Regions from separate parts of the Homo sapiens genome. Here region 1 is linked to region 2. Evidence: fine-mapped expression QTL. Tissue or cell type: whole blood. Region 2 holds a variant in brackets; the other region holds the start of a gene. All regions are shown on one strand. Distances are between the middles of the regions.

What was found.
Region 1: it holds the start of FANCC, and the variant in region 2 is fine-mapped to the expression of FANCC in whole blood (TOPMed, PIP 0.92).

The regions. Positions count from the first base shown.
Region 1 is chr9:95,314,650-95,320,025 of GRCh38, reverse strand. It overlaps FANCC (FA complementation group C), which reads left to right and starts at 2,317. Exons shown (of 15, transcript NM_000136.3): 1 at 2,317-2,500. RefSeq lists a silencer at 2,646-2,965.
Region 2 is chr9:95,263,771-95,269,146 of GRCh38, reverse strand. The region is part of intron 1 of FANCC (FA complementation group C); the gene reads left to right. Among named protein-coding and RNA genes, the nearest start is that of FANCC, 51 kb to the left of the region's middle. RefSeq lists a silencer at 126-420. The variant CTA/A (reference allele first, on the strand shown) is at 2,448.

The sequences.
Region 1 (5,376 bases), 51 kb before region 2:
TTCCTATTTAGGTCTAATTTAGGCCTAAACATGGTGTCATTTCATATACTGCAAAGTTGGATGAGCCTAGCAATTCTTTATTAACCACTGAACTAAAAAGACAGAAAACTGGGATATGGCAAGACATCAATCATTAACAAACACTAAAAATGATTTTTCAGCGAATATGTAAAAGGATGTGGGTACCAAAATAGATAATTTCTCTCAAGAAATACATACTTTAATTGCTTTCTTTGCTGATAAATGCAGAACTTAAACGTCAACTCACTCTCGATTTGTTACCACAGAGGTGACTTTCTCATGGTCAAGGTGCCACGATGAGTGCCCCTCAGGCATGTATTTCCCTACCCAGGACTTGCTTTTGATTTATCCATGTCACACTATGCACACATCAAAAACACATCGACCTCTCTGCTGTAAAACAGAACGAAATCATGTCCTTTGCAGCAACATGGATGGAGCTGGAGGACATTATCCTAAGTGAACAAACTCAGAAACAGAAAATCAAATATTGCATGTTCTCATAAGCGGGAGCTAAACAATAGGTATACATGTACATAAGAATGGGAATAACAAGACACTGGGGACTCCAAAAAGGGAGAGGGTGGGAAGGGGGTGAGGGCTGAAAAATTAGCTATTGGGTACAATGTTCAATGTTTGGGGGACAGGTACACCAGAAGCCCAATCCCCACCATTACACAATATACCTATGTAACAAGCAAGCACATGTACCCCCGAATCTAAAATTAAAAAACAATCAAAAAGCACCGACTTCCTTAACTGGCATGGAATAGTTTCGAGAATGGATGTAAACACCGAATTCCTTAATGTAGTTGCAGATTCTGCCAGTTTTGTCTCAACCTCTGGATCGGTTCCTTTTTTTAACTACCTTTAATTCTTAAACAGATTGTTGCTATTGCTATGCTATATACTTATTGTATCACTTATAAATGTATAACCTCTGCAAATTAGTCTCTGAATTGAAAGTATTCATTGGTAAAACGGGTATTTCTTCACCATAGGAATAGTTGGACATGTTTAAATACTTGAGAGCTATTTTTATTACAAGCACACACAGCTTTGTGGTGTTTTTTGTTGAGACAGAGTCTCGCTCTGTTGCCCAGGCTGGAGTGCAGTAGTGCGATCTTGGCTTACTGCAACCTTCGCCTCCTGGGTTCAAGCAATTCTCCTGCCTCAGCCTCCTAAGTAGCCGGGAGTACACACTAATTTTTGTATTTTTAGTAGAGACGGGTTTTTGCCATGTTGGCCAGGCTGGTCTCAAACTCTTGACCTCAGGTGATCCACCCGCCTCAGCTTCCCAAAGTGCTGGGATTAGAGGTGTGAGCCACCGCGCCCGGCCTGTAGTGTGTTTTTGAACGTATATGTGAAGTTGTAGCTTTTTTTTTTTTTTTTTTGAGACGGAGTCTCCCTCTGTCGCCAGGCTGGAGTGCAGTGGCGCGATCTCGGCTCACTGCAACCTCTGACTCCCTGGTTCAAGCTATTCTGCCTCAGCCTCCAGAGTAGCTGAGATTACAGGCGCCCGCCACCGCGCCCGGTTAAACGTTTTGTATTTTTAGTAGAGACGGCGTTTCACCATGTTGGCCAGAATGGTCTCGATCTTCTGACCTCGTGATCCGCCCGCCTTGGCCTTCCAAAGTGCTGGGATTACAGGCCTGAGACACAGCGCCCGACCTAAGCTGTAGTTTTATGATTATGATTTATGGTTGTGAGGCATTGATTTAAGACATTTTAAAGCTTAAGTCGTCAGATCCTAGAAGAAAAAAAAATTCACCAAGACAAGCTAATGCCATTGTCATAAATGGGAGTTTGGAGAAAATTTTATTAATATTTGTTTGGGTGGTTTATGTACAGCGTTGAACTGATTTGAACCCCGACCAAACACTGTATGGAACTAATGTACGGTAGGGGAAATCATTAACTGAAGATGCCTTTTTTGTTGCTATTGTTTAGAACGCAGTTAGAAAATCTTATTTTAGAGGTTTTACCCCGTTGACAAAGCCTCAACTTTTCTTCAAAAGAACTAATTTCCATTTTACCTCCCCTACATTTTGAACAGAATATGGAAGAAGCCAGCGCCCCTTCTCCGCGGGCGCTGCTGCAACCCTGCTCCCGCCGGGGCTTCCGCGCGAAACCGGGAACACTGGAGCAGTACCGACTCCGCTCGCCTAGAACCCGCCCCAGCCGGGCCCACTTCCGCCAGAGCCCTGGCCGCGCCCGCCCCGCCCCACGGACCCGAGATTCGTCGGAATTTTCCCGCGACGCCGCGGGAGCGCGCGGGGCCGCTAGCCAGGCCCCAGAATGCACTGCTGACACGTGTGCGCGCGCGCGGCTCCACTGCCGGGCGACCGCGGGAAAATTCCAAAAAAACTCAAAAAGCCAATACGAGGCAAAGCCAAATTTTCAAGCCACAGATCCCGGGCGGTGGCTTCCTTTCCGCCACTGCCCAAACTGCTGAAGCAGCTCCCGCGAGGACCACCCGGTAAGCGGCAGGCCGCAGAACGCAGCGAGGGCGGAGGCTTCCCTCGGGGGTCTGGCCGACACGTCAGCGGCGAGAGCGGGAGGAGGAGGCGAGGGGCAAGAGGGAAGGCTCGCGAGAGCGGGTGGGCCAGGCGCGCCTTGCGGTGGGCGAGAGGGGTTCCCGCCGGCGCAGGGCTGTGGCTAAGGCTGAGGCGGGAGGCGGGAGGCGGGAGGCGGAAGGTGGCGGGCGGTGCCAGCCCGCGGGGCGGGGCCAGGGCGGGGAAAGCGGGGGCGGGAGCCGGCGCTGGGGTCGCGCGGAAGGGAGCCCCCGGAGAGGCGGGAGCCGGGTGTTGGCGTTTTGGTTCTTTTTGTTCATTGAGCGCAGGCAGCTATGTCTTCTTCAAAGGAGAGGAGCAAAGGTGAATTTCTCTGCCTCGGACTCGTGGGAGCCGTGAAAAGCTCGCCCCTTTGAGCCGGTCGCCCTCTACAGCTGGCCTCGTCCTCCCCGTCCCTCACACCCCTGCCCCCAAACCCCATTCGCCGGGGCGCCAGGAGGGGCGAGGTCCAATTAGAGGAGCCCGGGGCGCGGCTGTTACCCCTCCCGCCCTCCGCCTTTTATTCCCGGAGGGAGGCGGGTTCGCAGAGGCCAGTGTCTTCCCTCCATTCTTTTTGTGGACGCCAGGCCATATCTTCAAAGCCCGTGAGAGATTTTTCAGGTGCTGTTTGTTGGTTTGCTCTTTTTAATTTTTTAGGTGGGTGCGTTTACAACTACGAACCCTCTATGATCTTATGTGTCCAGCGCACCGAATGGGGGAAAAGACTTGGAGTTTTATAACATGGGAAATTGGGTACCAGAATCTTAAGGGAAGAGACCAAGGAGTTTTCTAGCAAAGTCCTGTATGTGCCTGGACTTTTGTTCTAATCTGAAACTTGGAAAACTCCCGGGCATCTGATTTTATTCTAACTTGTGCCCCATTTAATGCATCTAAACTGTGATGTGATTTGACTTAGCATTTATCAAATGAGCAGAGCACTTTTGGGCCACCCAACTTCAGCTCTTTGTGGCTGTCACTCACTGTCAGTGATATGCCCTCAGACAGATCGTTTTCTCCTTACTCCCCTGAAAGGTTGTTACAAACAGTAGAATTCATACCATGTGTTGAGATCATTCATTACCTAAGCTTAGATGGAAAACATGTTCATTGCGACTTTATACATTAAACTTGAATTGATGTTTCAATGTTATGTGCTGTACCAGAGTCACCTGGAAATAAGCACTCATATACATTATTCATATACAAGAAAGGCTGCATCGAAAAAGAATTTGTTTTCCTAGATATATCAGAGATCTTTTTCACCAACCCACTACTCCCAGTAATAGAGCCTGCTTCTTGAGAACTGGACTAATTATACTTTGTATATTATACATTCGAATTTATTTTTGCTTTATTCGGTCATATTTTCTCTTGATTTCTCCAAAAACGTTTACCAAGGCATCAGAAAAGAAAAGCAGGCTCTATATTGGTATTTTTTGTTTTGTCCTCTAATAAAAAGCATTAACTTGATTGATTGGCTGGTTGTGGAAGATGTGTTGCTGCATGTATGTGCAACTGTGCATGTACATTTTAAAACAAATGGTACTTTTAACCAGTTCCATATTTCAGCAGGTAGTTCCAATAACAATTATACAAATTTCGTGTTTATGAGAACCAGCTACAGGGAGGCCAGCCTGGCCAGTAGAAAGTTGGATTGATTATCTGGGCCATGGAGAGAGCCAGAGGAAACTCACATGAGTGGTAGTTCCAAGTTGGTAGTGTTAGGGCCTCAAATCGGGCTGGAAATGAGCACCAAATGATTTTTAAAAGTTTTATTTTAGGCTGGGATATGTGCATTCTCTGTCTTGTTTGTGGATCTTGAGTGATTGACTTAATGTGAAAAAATACATACAGGAGAAGCACCTTGGAAGTTTTGCAATGTTTTAATAAAAATGCAGAAGTGGAGAAGGAAAGGCAATTCAGATAACAGGCAGAGCATGGTGGCTTATGCCTGTAATCCCAGCACTTTGGGAAGCGGAGGCGGAAGGATCACTTGATCCCAGGAGTTCGAGTCCAGCGTGGGCAACAGAGAGAGCCCTGTCTCTACAAAAAGTTAAGAAATTAGCCGGCCATAGTGATGCGGGGCTGTGGTCCCAGTTACTCGGGAGGCTGAGGTGGAGGATCACCTGAGTTCAGGAGGTCGAGGCCACAGTGAACTGTGATTGCGCCACTGCACTCCACACTGGGCAGCAGACTGAGACCGTGTCTGGAAAAATAAAATTGGTAACAATTCAGATTGGCCACCAGAGTTGGACTGGGGGCTAGCAGGCAATGGTTTTACCTCCATTTTGAGATTGGCATCTTCTAACTCAAGTTTAATACGGGACTGAGGGTAAGAGACCTGCATGCCTTTTATGTCAGCATTACATTATCTTGATTATGGCAGCTTTATAGTAAGTTTTGAAATTAAGTAGTGTAAGTTATCCAATGTTTTTCTTCATTTTCAAAATTGTTTTGGCGGTTCAGGGTTCCTTACATTTCCATATAAATTTTAGTATCAGTTTGTTATTTTTTTTCAGAAAACCGTGCTGTGATAGACTTTGTAGGAATTGCATTTAATTTTGCATATCTATTTGGGGGAGAATTGCCATCTCATCATGAACATGGAATCTCTTTCCATTTGTTGAGCGCTTTAATTTCTCTTAGCAGTATTTAGTAATTTTCAGTGTACAAATTTTGCCCTTTTGTAAATTAATTTTGAAGTTTTATTTTTGATGGTATTGTGAATTGAATTATTTTTAAAATTTCATTAAAATTTTTTTTATCGATAAAGTGAAAGCAAGTTTTTTGTTTTTTTTTTGAG
Region 2 (5,376 bases):
TAATTAAAGTGAAAATGGGAGAATAAGAAGGCATGCTGCTTCTTTTTCAGGAGTCTTGGCAAGGGTTCTAGTTTTAAAAGAAAGAGACACAGCCAACTAGATTGAAATGATGTGGAGTTCATCCCTCCACAGTCATATTTTACTGAGCCATTTTTCAATAAATGGACTAAATTGTCCCTTGGAACTCAGTAGGTGGTGCTCTTGTGCTATAGCATAGCATCGGCTTTGGAGAGGTTCTGAGAGCACAGCGGCTGGTTCCAGGGCCTGTGTCCTGTCAGTCCCCTTTCATAGCTGCCAGGCACACACCTGGAGGGCATCACATGGCTGGTCTGGTGAGAGGCTTTCTGTCTTTGGAAATGAGGGGGTGAATTAAGGTCTTTACCTTCTCTAGCCTGTCTGAGCTCTGCTTTCCAGGGGAACCTAAATGAGAGGTTTTCTAACCTTTTAAAGAAAAAAAAAATGTGACTGTTTATCCAAACAATTACGATGTGTATTGTTACCAGTTTTCCAAGATTTTTTATATTGTTATTCATCTGTGATTCCTCAAATCAAAGTTCCTTTCCACATAACTCAGGGTATCATTCTTGTTTATGTTTTCCTTTATGTTAATGTTTGTTTCCTGTTTAAGCTTCAGAGAAGATGCAGCAGAAAGAAATAAATATGTAGTAGAGAAATTTGGAAGTGATGAAGGAATACAGGTGAAAGCCATCGAGTTCATGCAGCAGCTAGTAGTAACTTAGCTGACAACAGACCCTTTTGGCAGGAGCCCATTGCTTTACTCCTTTTGCTATATAATGAGTTCCTTGGTCCGAAGTTGGTTGTGATACCATGATGGTGAATAAGGAATCCAGTCAAGTCCACATTTGGTGATGCTGGAGAAGTGTGGTGGGCAAAGAAGATAAATTTAAATCCAGAGTGAGTTATCTATTACAAGGAGGACAAATCTGTTGCCTGAAGCATTTCAGGGTCTGCTTTTTCATCAAGTTTCTGTAGGGGTTGTATAAAACGAAAGTTACTTCACCTATATCCACCAACTGGTAGGGGAGAGGCAAAATGCTAGTGGGACTCACAGCCTGGATGTGCTGATCTGACCCATTCAGTCACCTGTGATGTCGAAAGGCTACCAGCCAGGTCCGAGTGAGGCCAGGCTGTGGGGCCAGCAGCTGGGCTCCTGAGCTGTGCTGCTGCAGATCCAGTGATGTGCAGTGTGTTTTGTCAAGACAGAGTGCTTCCTCTCCAGTCTACTGTCTAGTATCTTGTGCACTGAGTTTTTAGGTTTTAATGACCGTAGTCCTGATTTACATACTTTGCAGTTGATTTTTTTTTAGCCATCTTTTAATTCTGCCTTTTCAATTTATACTTTCTTATTTTTTAATTAGCTTTTTTAAAAAGCACCCTAAATATACTGATTTTTGTTGGTTTTAAAAATCACCTTAAATATATTTTGTTGGGATTATTTTAGTGTCTTAAGTATACTTTGTTAGGATTTTTTAGCATCTAAATATACCTATTTGTTGGACTGATTAACTTCATCTGAAGTGAATTTGTGATCTAATGTCTGATATTGTTAGTTGCATTTATTTCTTCATGTACTTTAGAACTTTGGTTAAATGACATGTTTTGAATGAGGTTTTAAAAACTTTTCACTCATTCAGTCATTTTTCGCCTCTTTCTCCCTCTCTGCACACTCTCCCCTGTGTAGCCTCATTCTGCTTGTCTCTGTCTGGCTTCCATGGAGCCTGGGTGCAGAACTAGCTTTCACAGTGGGGGCTTAGTTACCTGGGCATTCATGGCTGCTTCACGCAGTGCCTGGTCCTGCCTGACAGGTGTCCTCCATCCTCCCTAGACCGCCACTCCATAGGAGGCAAGGATGCTGCGAGCCTTCCTTCAGGCATGGAGGGGTAGGGCTCTAGTCAGCACCTTCCATCCCACCTTCCAGCAAGGGTGCTAGTTTCTCACTCTGTCGTTTGTGCCTCTGTTTAGCCCCCAACCCTTCTAAGACCCAAACCTACAGTTTCATTGCCTGTTTTTGGACCCTAGCATAGGAGGGGCTGGCTGCTCATGGTTTTGTCCTCGGGGTCTTGCCTCTTTGTGTTTCTGTCTCGTATCGATTTCATAGAAATGTTTATTTTGTGTGTGTGCTTGCCTGTATCCTTTTCCTTTTTTCTTTTTATGTTTCCCCTCTCATTGCTGTATGTTTGGAGTAAAGAGAATCCATCCAAAAGTGAATTTACCGTGCCATCTTAACTGGAAGTCACATGGGCAGAGAGTTTAAAGGAAAGAAAGATACTTGGTTTTACATAGTACTGAAAGCTAACCACAAGAACGCTTCCTATGTGAGCTCAGTGACCCATAGCATATAGTTACTTAAACTCCGTCTGAGGCTTGCAGGCCCCAAAAGATGAGTGGGATTAGGCAGGTGGGATTTATTAGGGTGCTATGGTTCT[CTA/A]CAAAGGTTTCACCTTCTATTTTTCATTTTGGTGGTAATTTTTTAAAAATTCATAATTCCACACACCTAAATGCCTGCAATTCTAACTAAGTAATGTCTTAAAATTTCAGTGCCTGGAGTTGTGTTTGTATTGGTGCCAAGGAGCACTGCTTTAAATATAGGGAGATATTATAAAAGAACAGAGGTGAAAATGTAAATAACGTGTTTGAGCTAAGAGATTGCCGTTGCACAGTGGTTCTGAAGAGGAAAGTGATGCGTGAATTAAGCTGTCTCCCTGCATGTGTTAGTATTGGCCAGTCAACAGAACCTGCCTGTCGGTACCAAGCCCTACATGGTTAGTCCAAAGTGAGTTTCAATGACTGCATCATTGATCACGCTGAATTAATTTTGTCAATTTAAATTTTACTCATTTTGTAGATTTGTTGGTATTTAATTTGTATATTTTTTATATTGTGGTTGTGTAAGAGTTACAAGCATAAAGGTTTTACTGGTTTATGTTTGTTAATATTTAACTAATAAGAAGAATGACTTTAGATAATACTGGGAGCTCTCAACAGTTTTTAAGTTTGAGAACCATGGGTCAAATGGTAATTTAACTCTTGCTGTTGGTTGCAGCAAGCACCTTGCATTTGATTTTGATGTCTTTAGCTCACTCCTGCTCATGCTTCCTGACCTGCTTAGCTCAGGATCGTTTCTCTCTGGGGACTCTGACACCTCCATGCCGGGCTGGTGCCCCTTCCTCATGCTGCCTGCAGCCCCCTGTGTTTCCTTCTCTCCCAGCCCTTCCCACAGTGTAATCTGTGTATGGGTCCCAATTTCCTCATTAGCCATAAGTTGCTTGAGAGTGGGGAACACTGTCATCTTTTTATTTGCAGTGATTTTCAGAGCTCTTGTCATAAAATAGGCTCCTAATAAATGTATGGGTTTCCTTGTTTTTGTTTAGGTAGTAATAAATTACCTGTAGAATCAAGGAGAGAAAGAGGCAGAAATAACTTGGAGCCAAGTCACAAGGCAAGAAGAAGCTTCCTAATATTTTAATAACTAATGTGTTCCTCAGCTCACTTTCTAACTGGTCTAACCAAAACCCAAGTCTTACTGTCAGGTAAGTGAAGTGAGGACAAGAAACGCAAGGAAAGGAAGTAATGATTGTAATAGAATGCATGAGGGAAGGCTGGTATTTTTCAAGTCCGAATGATGGCTCCTTGGTGCTCTGATGGAGAACAAGGTCAGAGATTTCTGTCTTAGCAGCCTCGATGGCAAGCGCTGTGGTGAAGGGATGCTTTTATTTTGAAGCCAAGTCCAGAGAATAGCTCCTCTCCCCCCATTGCTGAGGTCTTGGGTGGGAGAATTGAGCCTAGTAAATCCCCAGAGTTATCTGCTAGATTCAGTTTCCTTAATTCTTTGCAAAGTCATCTGAAGAGTATATATACATACTCTGCACCTGGATTGAAGTTGCCTCCTCCAATTCCTTAGGCCCAGATTTTGTTTACAATTGAGGTTTGTTTGAAATTATCTGCAAATTTCAGGTCTGTGTTTTTGATTAGACTATCTCAGAGGTGGAACGCCACTGACTCAACAGAGAAATAGCCAGCTCCTCCTAGTGGAACTTTTCTTAAAACCTCATTGGTTTTAGGAGGAAAAATACCATTTGTTTCTTTCATAAGCACTTAATGGGAACAAGAATCTTTTATTGTGACTTTCAAAAAAAAAAAAAAAGCCACAAACACAGGGGTAAATTGACCAGTCTTACCCTGTGAAGTGAAGCAAAGAAACATTACATTTCAGCAAATTAAAAATAGTTATCAGGCTTTCATCAAGGAAGAGGAAGAATCTTGTCAACTTAAGTGGAATTGAACATAAATTTCTTAATTTTATATTTGATTATATTTTAGGGGGTTTTAAATATTTTCTGACAAGGTCATGGTGCCCCTAGTTGATGACATTGATTGATTGGAAGCTAAGTATTTGATTTGTCTTTTTTTTCTTTTTCCATAATTAGTGTGTTTTGTAGCATTCTCTCCATACATCTCCTGTTTGGTGCTTATTTCATGAGAGAAAGGACCTCATGCTGAGGGTAAATGGGAAAAAAGTGCACTTTATCAGGTCGCCTCCACTTTGAGAAGCTTATATGGTCCATATTTGGCATGAGTAGACTTAGCTCTCTGGGCTTAGAGATGTTTTAGACCAAAGGAAAGCATTCTTAGACTTTCTTGTCCCCCTGACAGGTACCATGTATAGCTACTTTTGTGTGGTTTAAAATGAGCTTTGTTTTAAATGTTAACAATCTTGGAGCTACAGGGGTTTCTATCAACATAAAATCAGTCAGAATTTTATCTGTTTTATTTTTCTTCTACAACAGCCTTGTTGCTTTTTTTATGTATTTATTTTCCATACATTTGTTCAGTACATATTTATCATGCTCCTACAATGTGCCAAGTATTGTGTGAGTTTGTGGGTTTCAAAATATGCTCAGCAAACTAGGTCCTGAGATGTGTCAGCTAGGATGTGTTTGATTGCAAGTAACAGGAAAGCCAAAGAATGGTGTTAAGGGATTAAGCAAAAAGAGCAGTTCCACATTTGGCTCCTTCATTGCCTCAACTATGCTGTGAGGACACGGGGCTGTGATTCTTCTTTGCTGTTTGCAGTATGTTGGCCAGTCCCCTCAGGTTTCCTTATCCCTGGGTCTCAAGGTGACTGTTACCGTTCTGAGTATCACACAAAGACTACTATGTCAGATATGGAAAAAAGTGAACTCATTTAAAACTGAGGAAAACTGAGAAACCTTTTGTTGAAGTTCAGTTCTCATGCCCTATATTTCCATAATATACCTGTTCCTACAGTTTGATAGGCGAGCAAAAGTAAATACCATGACTGGTCTGTACTAGCCATTCCCAAAATGTGGCTGAGGGCCCAGGGTCCCCGAGACC